Regions from separate parts of the Homo sapiens genome. Here all the other regions are linked to region 1. Evidence: fine-mapped expression QTL. A gene starts in region 1. Each other region holds a variant in brackets. All regions are shown on one strand. Distances are between the middles of the regions.

Region 1 (8,174 bases):
TCCATGTCACCCGGGACTGGTAACTTCTGCTTGCACCACTCCCTCTTGAGAGAACAGCACAGCCATCCCGGCTGCATGGTTGGACAGCTCTGATGTGCCAAGCGCCCCTTCATATTGTCCTGGGTGTCTGCCCACTGCTCTCCAGGACCCTGGAACAAGCTCAGTCCCTCTTCCACACAAACACCTGCTGGGTGTTTGAAGGCAGTACCCCTGAAACAGACTGACCACAGCCTTCTACTGTTTACAAGTGCTATCACATTTGATTCTCTCAGCTCTTCTGTGGGGCAGATGTTGTTGTTGTTGTCTTTACTTTAGAGAAGGTGAAATAGGCTCAGAGAACAAGTGCCTTGTCCATGGTCACACAGAATTTTAGTGCATGTCCTTGTCAACCTTGTCTTCCCCTGCCATCTTCCCTTGAACCTTGTCTTCTTCAAGTGAAAGGAAGTTTAACCTCAATTCCTCTGACTGCCGTAAGGGTGCCCATGGCATTCTCCTCAATGGGCCAGGATGGAAAATCCAGGACGGATGATCCTGCCTCCTGGGCAGGGAGGGGCAGAAGCTGAAATGGAAACTCTTTCTTGGGAGAGAGTGAGTAGAGGGTGGGCCCTATCAGGCTATAGTAGCTGCCAGACATCTGGTAAGGTGAACTGAGGGTGCAGTATCTTATTCTGGGGGGCAGGGTGGGAGTGGGGGAGCTTTCTTGGCATAGGAAGGGCTGGGGAGTCCCCAGGAAGTGGCCACTCTGTATCAGTAGAGTCACTGGATACAGGCCTACAGCGGGAAGGCACAGGAAGCTGGTTCTGATAAGGTACTTGGAGTGGTACTTCGTATGGCTAGAAGATGCTTTCATGGTAGAGGTGTAGAAACTAAGGCCCAGAGAGGGGCAAGGGCTTTCCCAAAGGCACACAGCAGGTAGACACCACCCTGCTGCCACTCAGAGTTCCCACTGCGAGGGGGGCATGTGCCCAGGCTGAGTAGTGGAAAAGGGCACGTCCTCTCCTAGGTCCTCACTGGCTCACGCCAAGCTTCAGAGATGAGCCTTGTTTGAAGTCTTCTGGAGCCATTTATCATACTCAAGACACAGTGGCAGGGAACAGAGCCCATCTTGTGTAGGTCTCCAGTGCTGGAGGGTTACAGTGTCTCATCAGAGAGGGCAGAACCATCCCAAGGCCACACAGCTAAATTACGGTAAAGCCAGGACACTGTTCTCCAAGGTCTGGGTCTTTTCAGCCCCAGCAGAGCCTCCTAGAAGAACTAGTCTCTCTAACCAAGACTGAGAAGGGCAGGAAGAGGGTACAGGTAGTTGAGAGATCTGGGCTCTCTCGCTTCCCCCAACCCTTCCACCTGCCTCCCATCCCACAGACACCCAGGGACTCTGAGGATGAGCTGGGAATTTCTGATGTTCCTTCAAAATGGATCATCTCTATTTCCCACAGTGTAAGGTTCTGTGCTGTTCACTCTTCACCAGAAAAACTCCTGCCTATCCTGTAAAACCCAGCTCAGAGGTCCAGAAAATGACCCTGCACAAAGCCTCTGCAGAGGAAGTCACATCAAATTCTGAAGAATCTTCCAGACCATGATCTCTGACCACAATGCAATATAATTAGAACTCAACAAGAAAAACATAAACCTCCCATAGGCTGAGAAACTGAAAAACATACTTTGAAATCATTCAAGAGTTAAAGAGGAAATTACACTGAAATTTATGAACTATTTAGAACTGAATGATAAGGAAAACACAAGCAGTTTCCAAATCATTTCCCCTATGAAGTCAGCCCTGACCCCACATGGCTCCTCAGATGGCTCTCCACCCTCTACCCATTTCTACGCCCTAGGAGGCTGACGTCTATGGGCTGCAGCAACAGGTTCCCTTGTTCTTAGCTTCTGGGAGGATTCAGCTAGTGGGGGAAACCTGGCCAGAGATCAGACGGAGGGAGAGAGGGAGGAGAGTGAGGCCTCTTACTTGCCCCCTGTCCTTCCCTGTATGATTGCTGTGAGCTGGGTATGCCCCTCCACCTTAGGCCACAGCAGCGCCCTCCTCATAGCTCCCACTTTCACCATTCCTTCCCCACACTCCTGCAGCCTGGGGTTGACAGCCTCTGCTCTTGTGAGCCCTTTGGTGATACACTGTGTGGTTTCCCTACACCTTGACCATACCTGTAAATAATGTCTTCATTAAACATACCCATTCTGGGTGTTCCATGTGCTTCCTGCAAATACCCCGACTCTTACAAAGTCCGTCAGTCCACAACCACATTCTCACTTCTGGGTGACTGAGCTGTGACCTTGTGTATCTCTGTGTGTTGTCCCCTTTACTGACCTGTCAGCACCTGAGGTCGGCAACCAGGTCAGCTTTATCACCCAGTCCCCTGATCTGATATGAGTGGAGAGTTATACTCAATAAAAGATATTGATTAGGATATCAAATAAATAAAGAAGCATAGTTTAATTTGCTCCATAAGCAAGTGTTTGTTTATAGGGGATTCAGGGCAGAGAGTTAAGAGTCAGACATAAAAATACAGAGAACTTTAGACTGGGGCAAAAATTGGTGCTCAACAAAAGAACATACCCACAGTTCTATGAGCTGGGATTCTTTCTTTACTTTTATTTTAGGTTCAAGGGTACATGTGTAGGTTTGTTATATAAGTAAACTCTGTGTCATGGGGATTTGGTGTACAGATAATTTCATCACCGAGGTAAGCAGCATAGTACCTGATGGGTATTTTTGTCTCATCCTCCCTCCTCCCGCCCTCCACTCCCAAGCAGGCCCCAGTGTCTGCTGTTCCCCTCCTAGTATCTATGTATTCTCATTGTTTAGCTCCTACTTGTAAGTGAGAATATGCAGTATTTGGTTTTCTATTCCTGTGTTAGTCTGCTTAGGATAATGGCCTCCAGCTCCAGCCCATGTTGCTGCAAAGGATATGATCTGGGTTAAGGATCTAGCGTGTTCTCATGTCATCCAGCAACAGAAGGTCCAGACACAAGGGAGGTCCAGTGTGCCATGGTAAATGCCCACCTCTGGCCTCCAGCTCTCCCCTACCCGCATCTACTCACCTCCCACCCCTCCAGAGTGGCTTCTATGGCTAAGCTCTCTGCTTTGGGCTTCCTACCCTAGAAAGCCTCCAATCTTCCCTCCCATCCCAGACAGAGCAGCCAACTGGTCCCTGGGCCTGGGGGCCACGGTGTGCATTGAATGCTGGTGGGATATCTGTCTGTCCTCGAAGGAACCCAGGTGGTAGGGAGAGCAGATCAGATCTTGAGTGGTTTGGATTTGTCAGAAGGAAGGAGGGAGAGAAGGTATTCTAAAATGGAACAGCTGGGATAAGGGTCTGGAGATAAGAAATGGGGTGACTCTGGGTAAGGAGCAAGGAGAATCAGCCCAACCTGAGCCAGGCCCCCTCCCTGGTGAGGAGATGAAGTTTGTGATTTGAGCGCTCTTCTGGGGCTTGTCCCTCAGGGGTGAAGGACTCAGCTCATGATTCCCAAGGCGTTCATTTATTCCTTCACTCACCCATTCATTCATTCATCAAGTGGGTTTTGAGTTCCTGCTATGTGCCAGGAGCTGAGGATATGGGAGTGGATAGGACGGTCCCGATCCCTTATTGGGTCCCGGGACAAGTGTGACGCAGACGATTCTAGGAGGGCAAAGAAACCACCCTTATCTAGCAGCTCTTGTTTCTGCTCCAGAAGAAGCCGAGCGTTTTCCCATTTTACTGTCTGGGAACTTGAGGCTGCCTCCTTGGTGGAGGTCCAAGGAAGCACCGAGAGGGCGGGCAGCTCAGTTAGTCCTTTGTCCAAGGGGAAGCTGGGAGCCCCATATGGACTTTCCGGGAAGGTGGGGGCGAGTGCGTCTGTGTACTGGAGTGGAGGGGAGTCCCCTTTCTCCGCCCCTCCCCGCCCCGTGGCCGCGGCGTGGCGGGGCCGGGGCGGAGCTGGCGTCGCCCGGGGCAGGAGGGCAGCCGCGGCCGGCAGGACAGGCAGACGGACAGGCTGACAGGAGAGAGAACAGGCACTGCGGGACCTGCAGGAGAAAGGCGATCCTGTGGCTGGGAATGTGACCCCACGGCCAGAAGAGGACCCGTGAGTGTGCGCCGTGCCCCTGCGGCCTCGCCGCGCACCCCGCCCGCCTGGCTTCCACTTTCATTTCTTCGGCCGTCCTGGCGTGGCACAGTCCGGAGGAGAGTCCCGCCCGAAGGCAGGCTGGCCGCTGTCCTGAGGCTGGCGTCCGAGGCTCAGAGCTTCGAAAGTTGCGGGGGGGATTGTCGGGGTGGGGGAGTACGGGGCAGAGGGGAGGGGTTGGGGGGCGTGTTTTCGGGGAGCGGAAATGTCAGGCGGGCTCCTCTGGGTCCTACGACCTTCCTGGCCCTGGGAGCTGGTTTGAGGTTGCAGGGAAGCCGGGGGTGGGCGTGGGTGGCTGCGCGCCGCGAGGAGAGCGTGGAGTCTTCGCCTCTACTTTTTCTCTTCGACCTCTGTCCTAGAGAGAGTCCCAGGATGGATTCTGGGTTCAAACTGGGGCCATCCTCTGGCCCAGATCCTGGGCCAGGCCCAAGGAGTGGTAGATGTAGCCTAGCAGGGGGCTAAATATCAGAAACAGGTAGGGTCAGCCTGCTGTCTTCATTTGAGAAGCCCAGATCCGCACCCAGGGAACGAGCAAGGCACTGCCACTCCAGGAGTGAAAGGATAGCCATCACTGGGAAATGGGGGCTAGGACGGGGAACGGCAGTGGTTCAGGGAGAGACAGAGGTTCTGTGACAGATAGAAACTCAGTGAGGGCATGGGGGTGGGGAGTGAAGGGAGTTAACCCTGTGGCTAGAAGAGCACCTGCCCTGCACCCACCCCCTGAGCTTACATTTTCCTGGAAAGAGACCCAGGCCTTGAAGTTCCACAGGAGTAAGGTGGAACTCTAGCTCACTGGTCAGGACACCCCAGTTGCTGTGCGGAGTCAGTGTGTTGGGGACAGGAAGCAGGTTGGGCTGTTTGGTGGAGAAGATGCTTCCACTGTCCCTCCACTCCCCTCCTCTTCTCTGTCTCCACCAGACCATTGATGAGCCAGTGCAGGAAAATGGTCTTTTACTCTTGGTCATGAGCTGAGCCCCACCTTATCCCAGTTCCCAGTTCTGCTTGTAACTTGCTATGTGGACACAGGCTCCTCAAGTCCTCTTTTTAGGCCTCAGTTTCCTCATCTGGGCCTCAGTTTCCCCATCTGTACAAGTGAGTTGGGCCAGCTGATCTATCAGGGCTATTTTAACTCTAAGATTCTAGTCTAAGCTTTCCTTAAAGCCTGAACACTGACTTTGTGCCAGGCCTTGTCCTAAGCTGGGGGTGGGTTGGGGATGGAGTGGAGACTGCAATGACCAAAAGCAGCCTCTACCCAAGGAGAAGGAGATCTGAGTTCAGGAGAGGAGGCTGTGGGAGGAGGTAGCAGCCAATCTGAGGATGTGTGGTCAGGCAGGTGGAGGGATAAGAAAACATGCAGAGGCAAAAGAGTGGGGGCGTGTTCAGGAATCAGGAAGAAGCCCAGGGTGGTTGGTGTGGGGAGGTGGGAAGTGGGGCAGGAAAGGTAGGACAAGGTGCTGAATGCCAGGGTGGGGGCCTATTTCTAACTGTCATAAAGGGGGCCATGCAATGTGGGGAGCCCAGGAGCCCCGCCTAATTGCAGTGTGAGGGATTTTGGAAGCACTTGCCCCAAGCAGAGTTTAAAATGGAGATGGCAAATGAAGCGCAGAAATCTCTTTGCTCTGGAAACTGGGGTCCCACCCTGGGGACTTCTTTGGGTGAGAAGTCGAAGAGTCGGGATGGATGAGATGACCTTTCACATCTGTGAGTTTTTTTCAAGAGAACAAGTTCCTGCTGAATGGCCTGTTTCTACTCTCCAAGCTGCTCTCATTTTACCAGACTGCCCCCATCCTGGCCTGCCTTTGTGGGTTCAAGGAAGGACCTTTGTCTCAAACAGCTCCCCAGCTAGTTTGACTTCTTGCCAGAAGTAATACCCCTCCCCGAAATATGTGCCATCCCTTTGCTTTTACCCAGGTGTCACCTGGTTCCCACCCTCCCTTCCCCAATCCTGTCCCAGGGTTACCAGAGATGTGAGAAAGGACAGTGCTCCAGCGTCAGAGGTCAAGCCCAGGCTTTGGCCATAAGCAAGCCTCAGGGTAGGGCTAAAGGCTAGAGTCAGGGCTCACACTTGCCAGAGCCCAGGTCAGAGGTCAGCCAGGAACCAGAATGCAATTCTTAGCTTATACTCAGCCTTAGTGCTCAGTCTAGGGGCAGGGGCAGTGTGCTTAGTGGGTGGCTAAATTCTAGTTTTGGTAGGTACATGGGTCTGCATTTCCCAGTAGCTCACACACTCACAGTTGAGATGAGATGACTCAGGTCTTAGAAACCTAGCTATAGCAGAGTGACCCAGGACCTGGATGGGCTAAATCCATGGTGATACAGGGGTCACCCAGTAAGCCAGTGGTAGAGCTGGGACTAGAACCCAGGACTCCTGCCTCTGAGCCTAGGGCCCTGATCACTGTCTCCCAAAATTTGTTCTGAATCTGGGATCCTTAAATTCTAGGAGGCAAAGTAAATTTGCCTGAGCTCTAGATGGGCCCTCCTGGGTGCATCTGACTATACTCTTCTACCTCCCAGTGCCAGGCACATAGTAGTTGCTAGAGGAATGTCTACTGAGTGTCAGGTGCAACGGGAGGAGCCAGTGGCTTGTTCAGATTTGGGGCTGGAGGAGGCTGGCTTGAGGGGAAGGATCTCCAGCTGTTGTCAGAGGAAGCGACGCCCTCATTGGCCTGCCGCCCTCCCCCTCCTCCAGTGCTTGCAGCCACACTCAGAAGCCGCCCAGCTGGCAGCGGGAGGGCCCTTTCCTCTTTCAGGGTGAAAAAAAAGGAAAGGACATTTTTGGTAGAAAAGTTCCCTGCTGCTCCCTGGGAATCCCCGGTGGCCGGATGGACTACGGGATATCCCAGAGGAAGCCGAAAGCCACCCCCGACCCCCCTCCACCCTGCCCCCAGCACAATGCTGCGAGGCTCTCCCACGTTGCACCAGCTGGCCAAGGGGGCTCCCAGAGGTCATCTCGTCCAAGCCCCTGTCTGCTGGTGGGCCTGCAGGGAGCCTCTGCGACCTCTCTCGTGACCAACAGCAAGTCTGAGGGGCACCTGTTTAGAGCCCAGGCCCAGCTCTGCAATGAAAGCAGAAAAGAGACAAAGCAAGATGGGAGGACTGTGGGGGCTTAGCAAGGGGGACTAACATAGCCTGGAAAGAGGGCGGGGCACTGGACCTAGGGGCTGAGGACTTAGATTCCAGGCAGAGGATGCAGAGGTTGAGCAAAGGCTGAGAGGTGACAGGGAAATGATGAATTGGGAAGTCAGAGCCCAGATGATAAGGCCTTGACCGCCAGCTCCCCTATGCCCTTGTCCCTGGCAGGGTATCCTCAGGTCCGAGCCCCTGGACAGCAGCCCCAGGCCCAGCTGGCCATGGCCCTGTGCCTGAAGCAGGTGTTCGCCAAGGACAAGACGTTCCGGCCGCGGAAGCGCTTTGAGCCGGGCACACAGCGCTTTGAGCTGTACAAGAAGGCACAGGCCTCTCTCAAGTCGGGCCTGGACCTGCGCAGTGTGGTGAGGCTACCACCCGGGGAGAACATCGACGACTGGATCGCCGTGCACGTGGTGGACTTCTTCAACCGCATCAACCTCATCTACGGCACTATGGCGGAGCGCTGCAGTGAGACCAGCTGCCCGGTCATGGCCGGCGGGCCCCGCTACGAGTACCGCTGGCAGGACGAGCGCCAGTACCGGCGGCCCGCCAAGCTCTCTGCGCCGCGCTATATGGCATTGCTCATGGACTGGATCGAAGGCCTCATCAACGACGAAGAGGTCTTTCCCACGCGTGTTGGTGAGTGTCACCTGGCGGGGAGGGAGCCACTGGGAGCCCATTCCACAGATGAGGATTTAGTTTGATATAGACACTCTGCAGGGTTGGGGGTTGATTTTCATCCCCATTTTGTGGAAGAGGAAAGCGAGGTTGAAACAGGTTAAGTGCCTTGCTCAAGGTCAAGCATTTGCTAGGACTTCCTGACTCCCAATTTGGGGCTTTTCTTTCTTTTCTTTTTCTTTCTTTCTTTCTTTTTTTTTTTTTTTCTTTTCTGAGACAGAGTTTCGGTCTTTCACCCAGTGGTGAGA
Region 2 (8,174 bases), 65 kb after region 1:
TATAGAGTTTGGTACTGTCCACGGTTTGAGACATCCACCAAGGGCCTTAGAACGTGTCCCCGAGGGATAATGGGGGACTCCTGTATTTACTGTTATCTACCAGGGCAGAATTACACAACTCATGGTCCCAGTGCTAGAGACGAGCCCTCCCTGGTCCTTGGCTCCGGGAGCACTCTACAGAAGCACTGTGTGCTGTGGAGGTAGGTCTGGGCCTCTTAAGATGAGCCAGGACTCTGTCCCTCTGTAGGATCCTCCGGCAGACAGGCTGCTCCACCCCTCCGGGATGCAGTCCCTGGCCCAGAGGGGCAGCTGTGGCACAACAGGAAGAGCCTGAAGTTCGGACCTGAGCCCTGGGTTCCAGTACTGCCTCTGCCACTATTCACTGGTGACCTTGGAAGTCCTGGCTCTGCTGGACAGAGGCAGATCCAGCAGATGCACTGAGGAGGCTCTGAGACCACAGAGCCCCTTCCAGGCATAGGATCTGCGATAATGGAAGGCAGCTCCCCAGCTCCAGAGCTCATGCGTGGGCGGGGCCTAGAAGGAGAGCACTGGTCCCAGCCAGTTGGAGTGTCTCAAACCTCAGGTCTCTCTTCTCAAACCTAGTGATCAGGCCTTGGCCCCAGCCCCAGCCCCAGCCCTGATTCAGCTGGATCCTGAGGACTCCAGTCTGAGGGCCTCTGGGCACAGGGACCGTCCAGTTTTTGTCCCTCTGTGTGTCTACCTGCCTGGGCTCTGGGGGCGCCTCCTCCCTCCTGGCCGACTGCCCTCCCACACCCAGCCCCATGAATAGTGGTGCCTTGGTCCCATGCCAGCACTCCAGCCGCTTCAGGTCTGGAGGGGGCTGAGGAGCAAGGTCCCCCAAAGGCTGGCACTCTTGTTGCCATGGTAGCAGTTGCCTTGGAAGCCACTTCCCTGACTTCAGCTTCCAAATGGTCCAAGAAAGCTACCTGTCCCCCGGGGGATTGGTGAATTAATCACGCTCTTTTCCAGGGTTCTCACCCCTCAAGGAAAATAAACAGAACCAAACCAAACTGGGGCCTTTTCGCCCACTGTTCCTCCCCACCCCCACGCCACACTTGGACTTGGTGCACTGAGAAGGAAGGAGCATGGGCAGACGCTCCACAGTCCTTGCCTCAGCAGGAGACAGAGAGAAGAGACTGGGTGATGGAACTCAGCAATGTGCCCGTGGCCTTGCCATGCCTGAGAACTGTGGCCTCCAAGAGCACCCAGGTTCAGCGGGGAGGCTCCAATCCTTGGGAGGGGTGGAGGGTTGGTGGGGCGATGGAGCCCTGGTGCCTTGGGCCTCCCTCTCAGCATGGCTCACAGAGAGGTTCCTGAACTCACTTACCTATTGCTCTGAGCACGTCACTCAAGGACACACATTTTCTTTTTCAGAGATGATATAGCCCAAACTGAGGAAAGAATTGGCAGGCCTCCCTCTCTACATCACAACTGTTTTGGGAACCTTTAATGATGCACTCCTGGTCCTGAGGGAAAGAGGCAGGCCTTGACTGATTTTCATTGTTTTGTTTTGTTTGTTTGTTTGAGCCAGGATTTCACACCCATCGCCCAGGCTGGAGTGCAGTGGTGTGATCTCAGCTCACTGCAACCTCCTCCTCAAGCGATCCTCCCACCTCGGCCTCCCAAGTAGCTGGGACTACAAGCACACACCACTGTGCCTGGATAATTTTTGTTTTTGTAGAGACAGGGTTTCACCATGTTTCCCAGGCTGGTCTTGAACTCCTGGCCTCAAGCAATTCTCCCGCCTCAGCCTCCCAAAGTGCTGGGATTGTAATCCCACAGTGCCTGGTCCCTTGACTAATTTTTTAACTCAATGTCTCCCTCTGAAGGTGGGTCTGCCAGTTCCTCCCACCTCAACTAAGACAGTGTTGAAATTCAGGGGCAGATAGGCCAGAGTACTTCCCAGAGGGGCAGAATCCATGAGGACTCTGGGGCAATTCCTCTGTCTCCCCATGTCTTGGATTCCCCACCTATATGAAGAGCTGGGACGGCCCTGGTTCTGTGATCTTGGAACTGAAAAAGGCTTAACGTGCCTCTCCTTTGAGATCACAGTGTTTTCTGAGATCTGAAGCAGTGCACAGGTGCCTCTGCCACCCCCATCCCCATCACCAGACAAGGCAGTGGGCTCAGGGAGGTGGAATGGCTGGCCCGAGCCCCATAGTGCGAGGTGGAAAACGCGGCCCCAAGAGCTTCTATCTTGGTGAGGGTGTGAGAGAGTCGCCCTCAGCCTTAGACTTTGAGAGGAGCAAGGAACACGTTTCATGGACAATTATTTTGGTGGCTCCTTCTAAAACTAAGTCAGTGGGGGATCAATTATGTGTGACAGAGACATGGGCTATGATTTGATGCCTAATTAGAGGAATAATCAGATCTCATCCAGGCAGGAGGCACAGCAGATGCTGGCAGCAGCACCGTGGCTGGGGAATGCCCAGCTCCAGGGGTGTTCCCTCTGTGGGGAACAGGAACACAGTCCAGGGCCCATCTGTGTGCTGCAGTCACCCCTCTCTACAGACTCATCATGAGCCGAAGCTCCAACTCAGGTGACCCTGGGCCTTCTCAGGCCCCCTTCTCCACATACAAGGAATGCCTCTTGTTAGAGACAGAGGTTCCCTTGTGTCCACAGCCCTCCTCTTTGATGACTGGAGGTGGTTGTGCAGTCCAAGCCCTCTCCCTGAACTCTGTCCTCATGTTCAGAAGCCTAGCTCAGGTCCCTCCCAGCCACAGCATTCTGGGGAGCTCACTCCTGGAACCTGCCCTCAAGGGGCTCTCAGCCTACAGAGGAGATAGAACAAGAACAGGGCAGCCATGGAGGCAGGTGGAGGAACAAGAAGTTGAGCCTGGCAATATGAGACTGCAGATGCAGTGCAGAGAGGGGGCATCCAAAGAGAGGCCAGGGAGGCTGGCGACGGGACTCCGAGCAGGATTATGGGACCCTAGGAATTGTGCCCAGGTGCAGGGCCAGGCCGGGGCCATATTCTGAGACTGGGGGGTCCCCAATCCATAAAGGGCCAAATAACGCAATGAATGATAAAGGCTGGAACTGGGGGCCGGGGCAGGGCTCAGGGCTAGGCTGCATTGGTGACCACTGCCCAGCCTTGGGGTGGGGCATCCTGCAAGTAACTCAGACAGGCTGGGTGCAGGTGCTCAGTTCAGCGGATGGGAAGGCACCAACCATGACCCAGCCTCCCACTCCCGGCACCTAGCCCCTACCAAGTCCTCTTCTCTACCCTACCCCTTAGGTGTTTTCCTCCTGCCCACACCAGCACCACCACTGCTCTTCCCTTTCACTCCCAGTCGGGATCCCCAAGGTGGCTAGAAGGGTTCACTCTCCATTCCACTGGCCACTAAAAGGGGGGTGGGTACCAAGCCCACCTGAGGACAAGGGAGTCCCCTGAGATCAAGCCTCAAACTAGGACGCCCTCAGCCCTACCTGGGAGCCCAGAGGTGGACAGGATGGGGATGGGATGGGCAGGGGTAGGGAGCAGACTTGGAGGGATGCCTCTCCCTGTCCGCTTTCCATACCAGGTGCAGTTCCTGTCTCTTGAGCCTCCTGCTGTGTGTCTATCTCAGACTCCAAGCAGAGACCCCAGGTGCACCTCCAGGCCAAAGGGCAGAGCACATTACAGCGGGCCCTGAGCATGTGATCAGGAGTCTCCTCACATCCCTGGCTTCTGAACGACATGCAAAGCCACCAGCTCGTTCTTCCTCCTCAGGAACCAGCAGTGGAACCTGGGCTGACTGCCCGCTGGGCCCTGGGACCCAGACAGCCACTCACATTGCAACCTCATGAATAACTCAGCACCTCCCTGCTGCCTACATCTCTGAGGAGCCTGTGGCCGCTGGACCAACTCCCCCCTCACCCTGCCTCTCATTGCTTTAAATTTTCATAGGCTGAGGTTCAGTGGCAAGTAAGTGGCTCTAGGAAGCTGGGGCAGGATGTCCTGGGCAGGGGAGCTTGAACTCTCCTGGGTGGAGGCTGGCAGGGAAGGATCCTATGGAACAGGCCCAGCTCCCTAGAACTCTGGCAGCCAAAGCAGAAATGTAGCCAGACAGGAGTCCCAAGGGTGGGCTTCAGCTTCAGAGGGCTTTGAGAGAGGAAGAGTAAGCTGGGTGACCTCGTACAGATCCCTGGTCAAGGTGGGACTGGGGGGCCCGTAGTGGAGCAGTGGAATAGGACTGCAGATAAATCCCAGGGTTCCCCACCTATCATCTTACTGCCCAGAAACTCCTACCCTGAAGTTGGAGCGCCAACAAGGAGACATCCAAGAGCCCAGAAACTTCCAGGACTTTTCTGGGGCCAGACTGCACC[G/A]GCTGGAGGCAGTGCCCCGGGTGGGCCTGCATGGACATCCCCATCAGCAGCAGAGACTTCCGCGGCCTGCAGCTGGCCTGCGTGGCTCTCGGGCTGGTGGCTGGCAGCATCATTATCGGCATCTCCGTATCCAAGGCTGCAGCTGCCATGGGCGGTGTCTTTATTGGCGCTGCTGTTCTGGGTGAGCAGGGGCTGGGCTGGGATAGGGAAGGGAGATTCTGGAGGTGGGGGCAGGGGCATCGTCAGGTGAACAAGGAACAGGGAAGGGCTGGGTCAGCAGGAATCAGCTGGGGAGAACGGAAGCTAGAGGTGTGAGCAAGGCCGCCATCAGGGGCACAGGCGGGAGAGGAGCGACGCGCTGGGGCTCCTTCCAGCCACAGGGAGGAGAAAAGAAGGAGAGCTGGCCGTCACACTCTTTTCTGGCTACTCCCACTGGCTCTCCAGCCCCAAGCTCTAGGCTCCTGGATTTGTGGTGGGATTCATCAGCCTATCTGGGCGGAACAGGGGGTTGATGGCGGCAGGTAAAAGGACAGAGCTCCTGAGGACTCTCTGAGCCAAGACAGGCTCCAGCTCAGAAAAAGGGTTTCGTCTTCTTTCCCTGTTTGCCTCCACAGCAGCTGTGTCCATCTATCTGTGTGGGGCCACGCCCACTGATTGCCCCGCAGTGACGCTGAATGCCATCCCTCACCTCACCTCACCTCACCCCACCCCCCGCCCCCGCCCAGGCCAAAGGCAGGACCAGAAGCATCAGGCTAGGGGGCTTTAGGTATCTACACCTGCGGGTTCTGGCACAGATGCTCATCGGGGGATGGAGCGGGGGCGGGCAAGGCAGGACTGGCTCCACTGCTCCTGCTCCCCAGGTCTGGGTGGGGAGGAACATGCTGAGGACAAGCACCCAGTCCGGCCCTGGGGGCCCTGGGGAAGCGTGGGGACAGCAGAGACGCAGTGGTGGTGTCAGCCAGGCTCATTCCAGCAACCTGCTCTTCACTTAGGAACGGTGGAGCCAGGCAGGTGGGGCCTTCACAGTCTGTAGCCTCTTCCCCAAACAGGCACTGCCCCCACCAACCCAGATGCACACACCCACAGGCTCACATTTACACACTCACAGTCCCAAGTCTGCACACTGTGCTCCTCCCATGCACACCCATATCTCACAAACCACCCCTCAGGCTCCCAGCCCACCCACAGCCTCAACACTCACCAGGCTCCTCCCCATCACAGAACCCCCTGTGTCTCTTCTCAGGGCTCCTCATCTTGGCCTACCCCTTCCTGAAGGCTCGGTTCAACCTGGACCACATCCTGCCTACCATAGGTGAGGCCTCTCCCTGACCCCAGCAGACCCCTCTGCCAAGGACTGTTCCAGACCCTTTGTGTGCTCGTCTGTGACCCACTGTGTGGCTGGGATGAGCCCATGTGTGAGACCGCGCTAGCTGTCTGTGTTAGAGCTGCTGTGTGTGTGTGTGTTGTGCAGGCGTTGCCATGACTACAGAACGGCAGAATCCAGCCTGCAGCAAAGGTGCCTGAACCAGCTCAGAGCTGGGAAGTTCATCTCCCTTGAGAGATTTTATGACTCCCCAAAGCCTCCAACATCTCTAAATAACTCCCTCTCCATCCCTGAGCCCCCATGAAAGACCCTCTATTTCCCCTAAGACCCCACAGCCTCTGCACAGCTCCCACCTCATCTCAGCTCCCCACATACAGGCTGCCATCTCCACCAATCCTATGGGGCTTCTCATGGCCCCAGTTCTCCCCGGGACCTCACCTCCCTAAAAGATCTGCCATTTTCTCCTTCAAGGGCCCAGTTCTTTTTCTCCTGCCCAAATCAGCCCAGATCATGTGAGACCTAAAGGAATGCAGTGGAGCAAAGACAGCATCAGGGATGGAGACTAGATAGCAAGAAGGACTTCCCTTCCCAACCTAGGCTTGATTTGGGGAATGGCTCAGTAATCAGGGGGCTTGGGGTGGTCTCATCCTGCAGGGAGCCTAAGAATCCATCCCCATCCAGGGGCAGACCACGGGGAAGGAAGATCCAGCACCAATGGCAACAAGGAAGGTAAGTTCCAGAAATTCCCGAGTCCATCCTTCTTTTTTCTTTTTTTTTTTTGAGACAGAGTTTTGCTCGTGTTGCCCAGGCTGGAGTGCAATGGCATGATCTCGGCTCACTGCAACCTCCACCTCCCGGTTTCAAGCAATTCTCCTGCCTCAGCCTCCCGAGCAGCTGGGATTACAGACATGTGCCACCACGCCTGGCTAATTTTTGTATTTTTAGTAGAGACGGGGTTTCTCCATGTTGGTCAGGCTGGTCTCGAACTCCCAACCTCAGGTGATCCACCCGCCTCGGCCTCCCAAAGTGCTGGGATTATAGGCGTGAGCCACCGTGCCCAGCCTGAATCCATCTTTCATCTCCCCTCCCTGACTGAGCAGCTCCATGGGGCCCGGGAGCCTTGAGCGGCATGCCGAAGGGGCCTCCCCAGTGCGGGGAGACGGTACTGCTGGCACTTTCCCCAGGTGCACAGTCAGACCCTTGCTGCTCCAAGCTGAACTGATCTCCTCTTGCTTACTCTGAGGGCTTCTGTCTTGCCCAGCGTGGACACTGGAATGAGGGCACCTCCCTGCCCCTTCCCCTCCCTCCCTTTCCCCTCCCCCAGGTCCTATACCTCAGTTTATTTTCCCACTCCCCTCTCCCATCTCTCCCAGGGTCAGAGGAACTCAAAGGGACCCAAGCTGGGGTTCCCAGTGCCCAGGGCAGAGCTGGGATAGAATGGGGAGGGGGGGACATGCCAGGGGACAGTTTCAGCCCAGTTTAAAGAGGCCATGGGTACCAGCTTTGGGTACTAGCTTTAACCACCCCAGTTTAAAGTTCATACCCCAAACTGGGCATCTCCTTGTTCTTCCACCCCACACCTGGAAAGTTCCAGGGCAGGAGTTTCTCAAAGATGGTCCCAGCCCAGTCTCTGCCACCAGGGGTTGGATGCCTAATACTCAGTGAAAGGCCCCATTCCAGACACTGTTCCCAGCCCTGTTCATCTATTATTCGCTCTTTTAAGTCTCACAACAACCACATGAGGGCAGCACTATCATTAGTTTCATTTTACATAAGGGGCAACCGAGGCACAGGGAGATTTAGTGACATGCCCAAGACCACACAGCCAGGAAGTGCGGCAGTCAAAGCTCAAACCAGGCAGTGGGCTCCGGGGTCCCGCCTCTACCCCCGGCCTATGCTGCTGCCCTCTTGAAAGCCATCCTGACTGGAGGTACCTCTTTAAACTGGGCTGAAACTGTCCCCTGGGATGCTCCCCTCTCCCCATTCTATCCCAGCTCTGCCCTGGGGTCAACCAGGCACCCCGGCCTTGGGTCCCTCTGAGTTCCTCTGACCCTGACAACTCCATGGGGACCTGTCTACGGAGGCAGTCCTCGTCCCTGTTCTCTCCCCCAGGAGCCCGCAGCAGCCTGTCCACCGTGAGCAGGACCCTGGAGAAGCTGAAGCCGGGGACCCGGGGGGCTGAGGAATGCTGAGGCAAAGTCTGAGCGGCTGCCCATGCCCTGCCCTCCCATCCTGCCTGCTGCCCCTATGTCAGTGCCCTCCTGGGTTAGGAGACCCGGACCGGAGACAAGCCAGGCCCTGCAGACCCCAGAGCGGCTGGGAACAGTGTCTGGAATGGGGCCTTTTGCACTCGCCCGGCCAAGCCTCTCCAAAATGGATTCCACTGGTGTGGGCTGGGACCTGGAGCAAGGTGTCGCCGGACGCCCCCACAGGGTTCCCATGTTTCAGGCTCCTGCCCTGGCCTTTCTTTCTGGACTGCAGCTCAGCTTTGTTGCCTGTTCAATCTACTGATTTGTTTCT
Region 3 (8,174 bases), 38 kb after region 1:
CTTTTCAGGGAGCAGGAAGACCCATCTATCAGTGGCATTGCCTGGGGTCTTCCTTTTTTCAGATGTGATTCTTCCCTCAGCTATTCCTGGAGGGGCTGCTGAGAGATAGAACTATATAAGAGGAAGAGAGAAACACCAAAGGCCATGGCCGCAAATGAAACTTCAGTCTCCTGTAAGCAGAGAATTTGTCTCTCAGATTGTAGCTACTTATGCTGTGTGTGTTTGACTACATTTTAAAGAATACGTGTTGTGTTCAGTAGAAACGATGTTGGGTCATCAGACATTTTTTGACACTCTCTGTGTGCGAGGCACTAGGCTCAGTGTGGGTCCTGTTATCACTGGGCATGTGATGGGGTGATTGGACACTTGTGCAAAGCACCAAGAGGATCAGTAGCTACTCCTAGGAGTAACGTGCCCCACTTCATCTGTTTTGTTTTCTTTCGTTGTGAGGTCTGAAGTAGCTTCGCCTCTTGGTCCCTCCTTCCAGCCTTCCAGACACACTAGTGAATTGGCTGTTCTGTAAAGTGGTTCCAATAACAAGCACTTTATCGGTTGGGAATATGGGACCTCCAGCCACCCACCTATCCTGATATGTGTAAAGGGCTAATGCCAATGTGTCCATTGTGAGAAGCATGTCATTTAAAACACTTACGAATAACAGTGTGCCATCTGCTCTTATAAACAACTGAAAGACCAAACCGTGATGGAACCAAGAAGGTACTTTCAGCAGGGGTTTTTTGTTTGCCTTTAACTCAAACAGCAGGGGTGTGTGTCTGTGTGTGTGTGTCTGTGTGTGTCAGGGTATGGGGATGGGGGAGAGACAAAGATCCCAAGGTATTCAAATAGTTTCCTAATCAACAGCTCTTTTGCTCTTTCAGTTAACACAAGAGAGTACTTCCTATTTTTAAGGACAGCTTGTGCAATGACAGGACTTCTCCTGACTGAGAGTGATAAAATCTAATTCATGGTTGAAATGTCTTCTGCTCAGGCTGTGGGTTTCAATGCTAGGTGCCTCAAGAGGAAAAGGCTGAAGAATGGAGGCCGAGTGGGGATGAGGTCAGGCAGCTAGTGCTGTGATGGAGATGTAGCCTCCTTTGGAAGGGGCTCAAAGAGCTGTGCTCTTTGTGAGCTTGGGCAGGTCATCTAGATGTTCCTTTAACCCAGGTCTATTACTCTGTTAGAACAACTATGACTCAGTACCCTAAAAACCTCAAGGTGTCCTTTGCATCCTACTTCTATTTCCTGTGGGTGACTTCTGGAGACTTCTCAGAAGCCTCCAATGACTTCCATGTATGGGGTATAAAATAGAACAGTGTTTTATTCTCCTTTGTATAGCCAGTGCTTACACAGAACTTGGCACATAATAGGTGCTCAGTAAATGAGTAAATGAATATTCATTCAAATCATACCACTTCTCCTCTGATGATCCTCCAGATTCTCTGACCAATTTTTTTTTTTTTTTTTTTTTTTTTTTTTTGATATGGGGTCTCACTCTGTCACCAGGCTGGAGTGCAGTGGCACGATCTTGGCTCACTACAACCTCCGCCTCTCGGGTTCAAGCGATTCTCCTGCCTCAGCCCCCGAAATAGCTGGGACTTTAGGCGCGTGCCACCACACCCAGCTAATTTTTGTATTTTTAGTAGAGACGGGGTTTCCCACATTGGCCAGGATGGTCTCGATTTCTTCACCTCTTGATCTGCCCACCTCGGCCTCCCAAAGTGCCGGGACTACAGGTGTGAGCCACCATGCCCAGCCTCTCTGAACAGATTTAACCCTTTCTTCCCCCAACTTTTTTTTTTAACTGTACTTTGTCCCTCTGTGATAGTATTTACCAATGCCTGGTTTATTCTGGGGTCACCTGTGTATGTGTCTGTCTTCCCCACTGGACTGCGACCCTTAGAGGAGAGGGATCATGCGTATATATATTTTAGAGATGGGGTCTTGCTATGTTGGCCAGATTGGTTCTGAACTCCTGGCCTCAAGCAATCCTCCTGGCTTGGCCTCCCAAAGTGCTAGGATTACAGGTGTAAGCCCCTGCACCTGGCCTTTATTTTATTCCTTACTCTGTTATGCTGTCTGGCACATAGTAGATATTCAGGAAGTATGTGCCGAATTGAGACCCTTTTGCTAACCTCATCGCTAAAATGAGGAACAGGATGCCTTGTATGTGGTCTTGTTGTTGAGAAACTGGGTCCTCAGGTGGCTGGGAAAGCTACTTGTCTTCCTTGTCACTGAGTGCTAGAGTCATTGGGTGCCTGTGTCGTCTGATCAGGGAAGCTGAGCCACAAAAGTTCTTCCCATCTGAGCTTGCAGTAGGGTGACTCATCTTGTTATTCCTCTCATCCATTTCACCTCTAGATATGTACAAGCTGACCTCTGAATTGCTTGGAGAGGGAGCCTATGCCAAAGTTCAAGGTGCCGTGAGCCTACAGAATGGCAAAGAGTATGCCGTCAAAGTGAGTGTCTCAGCTGAATGCCAGGCTTTACTTTGCAAATAGTCATTCCTAGCTCATCTTGAACCAAATAAATGTTATATTCCATAAGAATGGGGACTCTGAAGCTGTATTCACTGGATTCAAATCTTGGTTTCTCTACTTACTGTGTACCTCGGGCAAGTTACTTAACTTCTCTGTCCTTCAGTTTTCTCATCTGTAAAATGGGTATAATACTAGAACCTATGTAGAATTGTTGTGAGGATTAAATAAGTTAATATAGGTAAAGTGCTTAGCACAATGCCTGGCTCATAGTAAGTTTCTCATTATTCTGACAAATGAAGTCAGCTTCAGGGAGTGGACAACCAGATTTGGAATTAGAAGGCCTACCTGAATATCTATTTTGACAAACTATAACTGTTTGACTTTGGGCAAGTCATCAAATGTCCGTAAGCCTCAGTTCCTACATCTCTAAATGATGATACCTGCCCTTCAGTCTCCTGAGGCAGTTATGAAGATGAAAATTAAAATATCCTGGGAGAGGTGGAAACACTTTACACGTCACAAAATGCTATCCAAGTGTTAGATGTTAGCATGATAGTGAGGATTAAAAACTAAGGTGACTGATTTGGTAACATCTGAATGATGTCTCAGAAAAAAAAAATTAAAAGAAGAAAACAAAACTAAAGCGACTGAGCACTCAGTTTTGGGGCAGGAGAAGTGGCTTCTGGCCTCATTGCTGCCTTTAATTAGCTGTAAGGCCTTGGAGTGGCTCATGTCACCCCTCTGTGCCTCCACTTGCCCTCTCCACATGGAAGAAGAGCTGGATCTTGAGCAGTGGTTCTCAAAATGTGTGCCCTGGACCAGCCTCAGCATCGCTTGGGAACTTGTTAGAAATAGAAGCTACCTGGCCCTACCTGAGAAGTACCAACTCAGAAACAGGGGTGGGCCCAGCAATACAAATGTTAACAAACTCTCCTGGTGACTCTGACACTCACTAATCCTTGAGGACTACTGTTGTAGGAAGGGCAGTTGTGAATGCTACTATGTGTTAGAAGCCCTTAGAGCTCTAACAAAGCACACACAGATCCAGGTTTCCAGATGTAGGATAGGGTCTGGATCTCTGTGGCTTGACCAGATTCCCCACTTGAGTCTCATAGCCACCAAAGTTTGAGGACTAACTGACCTAGAGAAAGGGTCTTTTTAAATCCAAGCTGATTTCAAATCACCCACCTGAGCCACCAGGTCAAATGCCACCTCACATTGGCAATCCCAGCCCAGTGGGCTCCTGAAGGAAATGTTTTCTCTTCTTTGAACCAACTTTCCACAGTCCCAGCTGCGGGTTAGAAGGTTGAGCAAGTCTGCTAAGCCACGTTCCTTTCAGCTGGAGTATTGCTTCACATGGTAACAAGAGCACTGTCTTAATTTCTTTTGGGAAACAGCTCAGTATAAATTACAAGTGATTTTTAAAACATACGCCTAAGTGTAAATAGAAAAATTAGGCCAGGCATGTGGCTCACACCTGTAATCCCAGCACTTTGGGAGGCTGAGGCGGGCTGATCACCTGAGGTCAGGAATTCAAGACCAGCCTGGCCAACATGGTGAAACCCATCTCTACTAAAAATACAAAAATATTAGCCGGGTGTGGTGCATTCCTGTAATCCCAGCTACCTGGGAGGCTGAGGCAGGAGAATCCCATGAACCCGGGAGGTAGAGGTTGCACAGTGAGCCGAGATCACACCACTGCACTCCAGCCTGGGCGACAGAGCAAGACTCTGTCACAAAAAGAAAAAAAAAATGTTAGCCTGGTGTGGTGGCATGTGCGTCTAATTCCAGCTACCTGGGAGGCTGAAGTGGGAGGATCACTTGAGCCCAGGAGGCAAAGGTTGCAATGAGCCAGGATGGTGCCACTGCACTCCACCCTGGACAACAGAGGGAGACTCTGTCTCAAAAAAAAAAAAAAAAAATTGATATATCTGTC[T/C]AAATGCGGTAAAAACCACAAACATAAACTGATTTTCAAAGGTTTCAATACATTTATGGATGAGAGGTATATTTCTTCAAGGTTGGATAATGGGAGGAAAACCTGGCCCTTCCTCCACATCCCCCCTGGCATCTTTGAGGCAAACACTGGACTCTGGCTTGGCAATTCCTTGGTTTCAGCAGTTCTGCCCATGTTTCTTCTCTCCCCTACTCTTTCAAAGCTCCCTAGAGATGGGCTACTTCTCCCAACATGGCCCCACAATACTTAGCTTATTACAGCTTTTCCTATAGGCACCCAGCTGATCCTAGACTCTCAAGGTTGGGATGGAATTTCAAGATAACCCTGAATTTCCTCTGACTCCCCAGATAGTTGTCCATGTTCTGCTCCCCCATCTCTAGTAGCAAGAGCCCATTACTTCCTCAGAGAAGACTGTGCTGTGGAAGGCTTGCCTGCTAGAAAGTTCTTCATGACTTTGATCTGAAATGCTTGGGGAATGAAGTTGAATCACTTCTGTTCCCCAGCACTACACCTCTCCATTCAGATAATGGGCCCACTGTGGTTTACAAACAGACACACTTATTTAGAAAATTGCAGTTGGTCACAGATGTCTGTGCCACATCATATCGGAGAAGTTTGAAGTCTCAATGAAGGAAGAGGATGTCATTGTGCTGCCCACTGTGCACGTTGGAGCTGTAAGGCAGAGCTAGGCTCTGCAGATTTGCTCACAGGCTCGGTGTGCAGTGGTTTGAGGCTCCAGATGGGTCCAGAGAGCTTTGCAGAGGCAGCCAGTCCCTTTGGAAACCACCCTCCCATCTGTTGGCTTATCTGTTCCTTCAGTCAGCATTTGACAAGCATCTCAGGTAAAAGTGTGGAGGGGGAGCAGCCCACCGTATCACAGGAGAGACAAAGCCTCCAGGTCCTCGAAGAAGTTAGAGCATCTAAGCAGGTATGGGATAGCAAGGGCTTAGGAGTCAGCTCTGGACTGCAGGCAAATGTTTCATACCTCCCTATCTTTTGATGTTGTCATAAAGGTCAACTGAGATTATGTAAATAAATTATTATTGTTTATTTATTTATTTATTTATTTATTTTTTGAGATGGAGTCTCTCTGTTACTTAGGCTGGAGTGCAATGGCACAATCTCGGCTCACTGCAACCTCCGCCTCCCCAGTTCAAGTGACTATCCTGCCTCAGCCTCCTGAGTAGCTGGGATTACAAGCACCCACTACCACGCCTGGCTAATTTTTTTGTATTTTCAGTAGAGACGGGGTTTCACCGTGTTGGCCAGGCTGGTCTAGAACTCCTGACCTCAGGTGATCCACCCACCTCAGCCTCCAGAAGTGCTGGGATTACAGGTGTGAGTCACCACACCCGGCCGTAAATAAATCATTTAACACAGTATCTGCCAGAGAGTAAGTTCTCAGAAGAGGAAGAGCCTACTTCTGCCAGGGGGATCGTGGAGGCAGCCTCTGAGCTGGGTGTCAAAGCTTTAGCTCCTCGCCACGGTGTCCTGCATCAGCCTCTCCCTCCAGCATGAGAAGATCCTTCAGTAGATGCAGTAAATGCTTACCCTTAAGGCAGAAAGAGGTGTCCACAGGAGGTGGAGCTGAGTAAGGTAGCTCTTTGTCTTGCCGGCTGCCTCAGTCTCCCCTGGGCAGCTGGGGGCAGCAGCCTCATTCACTTCCTTGGTGTTGTGCTTGGCCAGAGTGGAATGGGCTCAGCTGAGCTGGAAAGCCCTGAGGCCAGTCTGCTGCTTTGCCAACAGAGCCACAGTGCCGGTGTCACCAAGGCCTAGGCCAGACTTCTGCTGGACACTGGATTTGGACTGAGTGTGGCCTTGCATTCTCCCAGAGGACTCCTGCCAAAGGGCTGTTTGGAAGTCAGGTGGGTGTACATGACAGATTTTATTCTTCCCACAGATCATCGAGAAACAAGCAGGGCACAGTCGGAGTAGGGTGTTTCGAGAGGTGGAGACGCTGTATCAGTGTCAGGGAAACAAGTGAGTATCATGTGATTCTCGCTGCTTCTCTGGGGGGACGCTTGGCCACAGAAGAGGAGGCTATTTCTTACCATCTCCTGACTCCAGCATTTAGCTCTCACTCCTGTCCCCACAAGGCAGGTACCTCCTTCCGCCCCTTTCAGTGTTAGGGAGAGAAAGGAAAAGCAGCAGTAACAGCAAAGGAGCTATTATCTCTTCTGAAATACTGTAAATATCATCAATTCAAGCAAGTTAGAAGAATGAACTATCTGAATCAGTGGTTGTTGGGGGGAAATGGGGTTTTATTTCTTTCGGTACCTGTGGAAACTAGGTTGACTGAGTGTTGCCTGGTAGAAATCTTTAAGGACTTGCCTTAATACCAAGATGAGGAGAACTGTTAAGAATATTTGCTGCTGTTTCTGCTCCTAGAATGTTTACATATGTGCAGATACCACTAAGATCCTGGAACCTTCCAGATAGCTGGGTCCGGCTCATCTCTAGCCCCAGTTCATTCTGCCCACCACCAGCTCCAAATGAGCAGCTCTCCCACTGTGGCTTTAAATCAGGGGCACCTCTAAGACTCCACTTCCCCCTCTCTCCCTCCACGGTAGGGTCAGCAGGGAGCCAGTGGCCTGGTATTGATGGCTTTGTCATTAAGCTTGGAGGATTGGAGGACGGGGGCTGCTGTTGATTTAACTCCAGGCACTGCCTCCACAATCTTCTTTCAAATTAGGCCATTTTGCCCATCTTATTTGGATGCCTTCACACTAGTAAAAGCCTCATATCTCCCAAAGTAGTCAGCATTTTTTTTATGAGGGACAGATTTTTATTTTCAGCCCTGCAGCTTCTTAGTTCAGCATTAGAGACTCTACTTGGTTTATTTTATTTTGTAAAAGAAAAAAAGCCCACAACACCTCCAATATCCAGGCTGGTGGCTTCCCTACTGAGTTACAAGACGACCTTGTTGGCAGAGCACTGAAATACTCGGGCAGACAGAGAGTGCTCACCGGGGAAGGCCACAAGTGCTACAGTGGCCAGGAACGCGGCCGTTTCATTAAGCAGCGCTTAGCAGTTAGGGTCTAGCGGTGCCCATGTTAGGCCCCAAGTCCATTTGACAGATGTTTCCATTTTCTCCAGGCAATGTAAATACTGCCCCGTGATTTATGGGCAAGAGGGAGGGCAAGTAATTATTTGCTGCTTGCCTCCAGGACACACACCTAGTATTCAGTGTTATTAGCCGCAATTGCTTCCAGTCGGCTGCAGATTTTATTCAGTTTAATGTGACCGGGACTTTTTTATAACTCTACCTAGTGGGTTTTAGGGCTGGGGTTTGACAGCACAGACTTGGTGAAAACACCAGAGACTAAACATTATGGAAAGATAAGGTGACCTGAATCTTGCTAACACCATTGGCTGCTTCCATACGCGGGTCTTTAATAAGCATTCTGATTTCAAGTTGGTTTCTGCCCCACTACCAGGTGTTGTATATTTTTTTCATTGTATATTTGTAAGTAGACTTTAATATATAATACCATTTCCCCCCTTTTCCCTCTCCTCCTATTTTCCCTATTTAAGGAACATTTTGGAGCTGATTGAGTTCTTTGAAGATGACACAAGGTTTTACTTGGTCTTTGAGAAATTGCAAGGAGGTACTTACCGTTGAGTATGTGTGTGGACTTCTGATTAAGACCCAGGGTGGTGATCATCCATCATGAATCCCAGAGACTTCCAAAACGAGTCAAGCTAATAAAAAGGATGAAGGACTTAAAAACTGCCCTTGATTT

What was found.
Region 2: its variant is fine-mapped to the expression of MOB3C in whole blood (TOPMed, PIP above 0.99).
Region 3: its variant is fine-mapped to the expression of MOB3C in whole blood (TOPMed, PIP 0.94).

What each region holds. Positions count from the first base shown.
Region 1 is chr1:46,612,617-46,620,790 of GRCh38, reverse strand. MOB3C (MOB kinase activator 3C) reads left to right here and starts at 3,980. Exons shown (of 4, transcript NM_201403.3): 1 at 3,980-4,080; 2 at 7,420-7,887. The coding sequence starts at 7,470. RefSeq lists a silencer at 3,806-4,085 and enhancers at 4,486-4,555, 6,907-7,530.
Region 2 is chr1:46,547,402-46,555,575 of GRCh38, reverse strand. KNCN (kinocilin) reads left to right here and starts at 3,929. Exons shown (of 4, transcript NM_001322255.2): 1 at 3,929-4,511; 2 at 5,574-5,642; 3 at 6,309-6,383; 4 at 7,767-8,174. The coding sequence starts at 4,361. The coding sequence ends at 7,846. The region is part of intron 3 of MKNK1-AS1 (MKNK1 antisense RNA 1); the gene reads right to left. RefSeq lists enhancers at 5,167-5,806, 7,243-7,743, 7,744-8,174. The variant G/A (reference allele first, on the strand shown) is at 4,331.
Region 3 is chr1:46,574,812-46,582,985 of GRCh38, reverse strand. MKNK1 (MAPK interacting serine/threonine kinase 1) reads left to right here. Exons shown (of 13, transcript NM_001135553.4): 4 at 2,359-2,456; 5 at 6,332-6,411; 6 at 7,966-8,039. Among named protein-coding and RNA genes, the nearest start is that of MKNK1, 25 kb to the left of the region's middle. The variant T/C (reference allele first, on the strand shown) is at 4,414.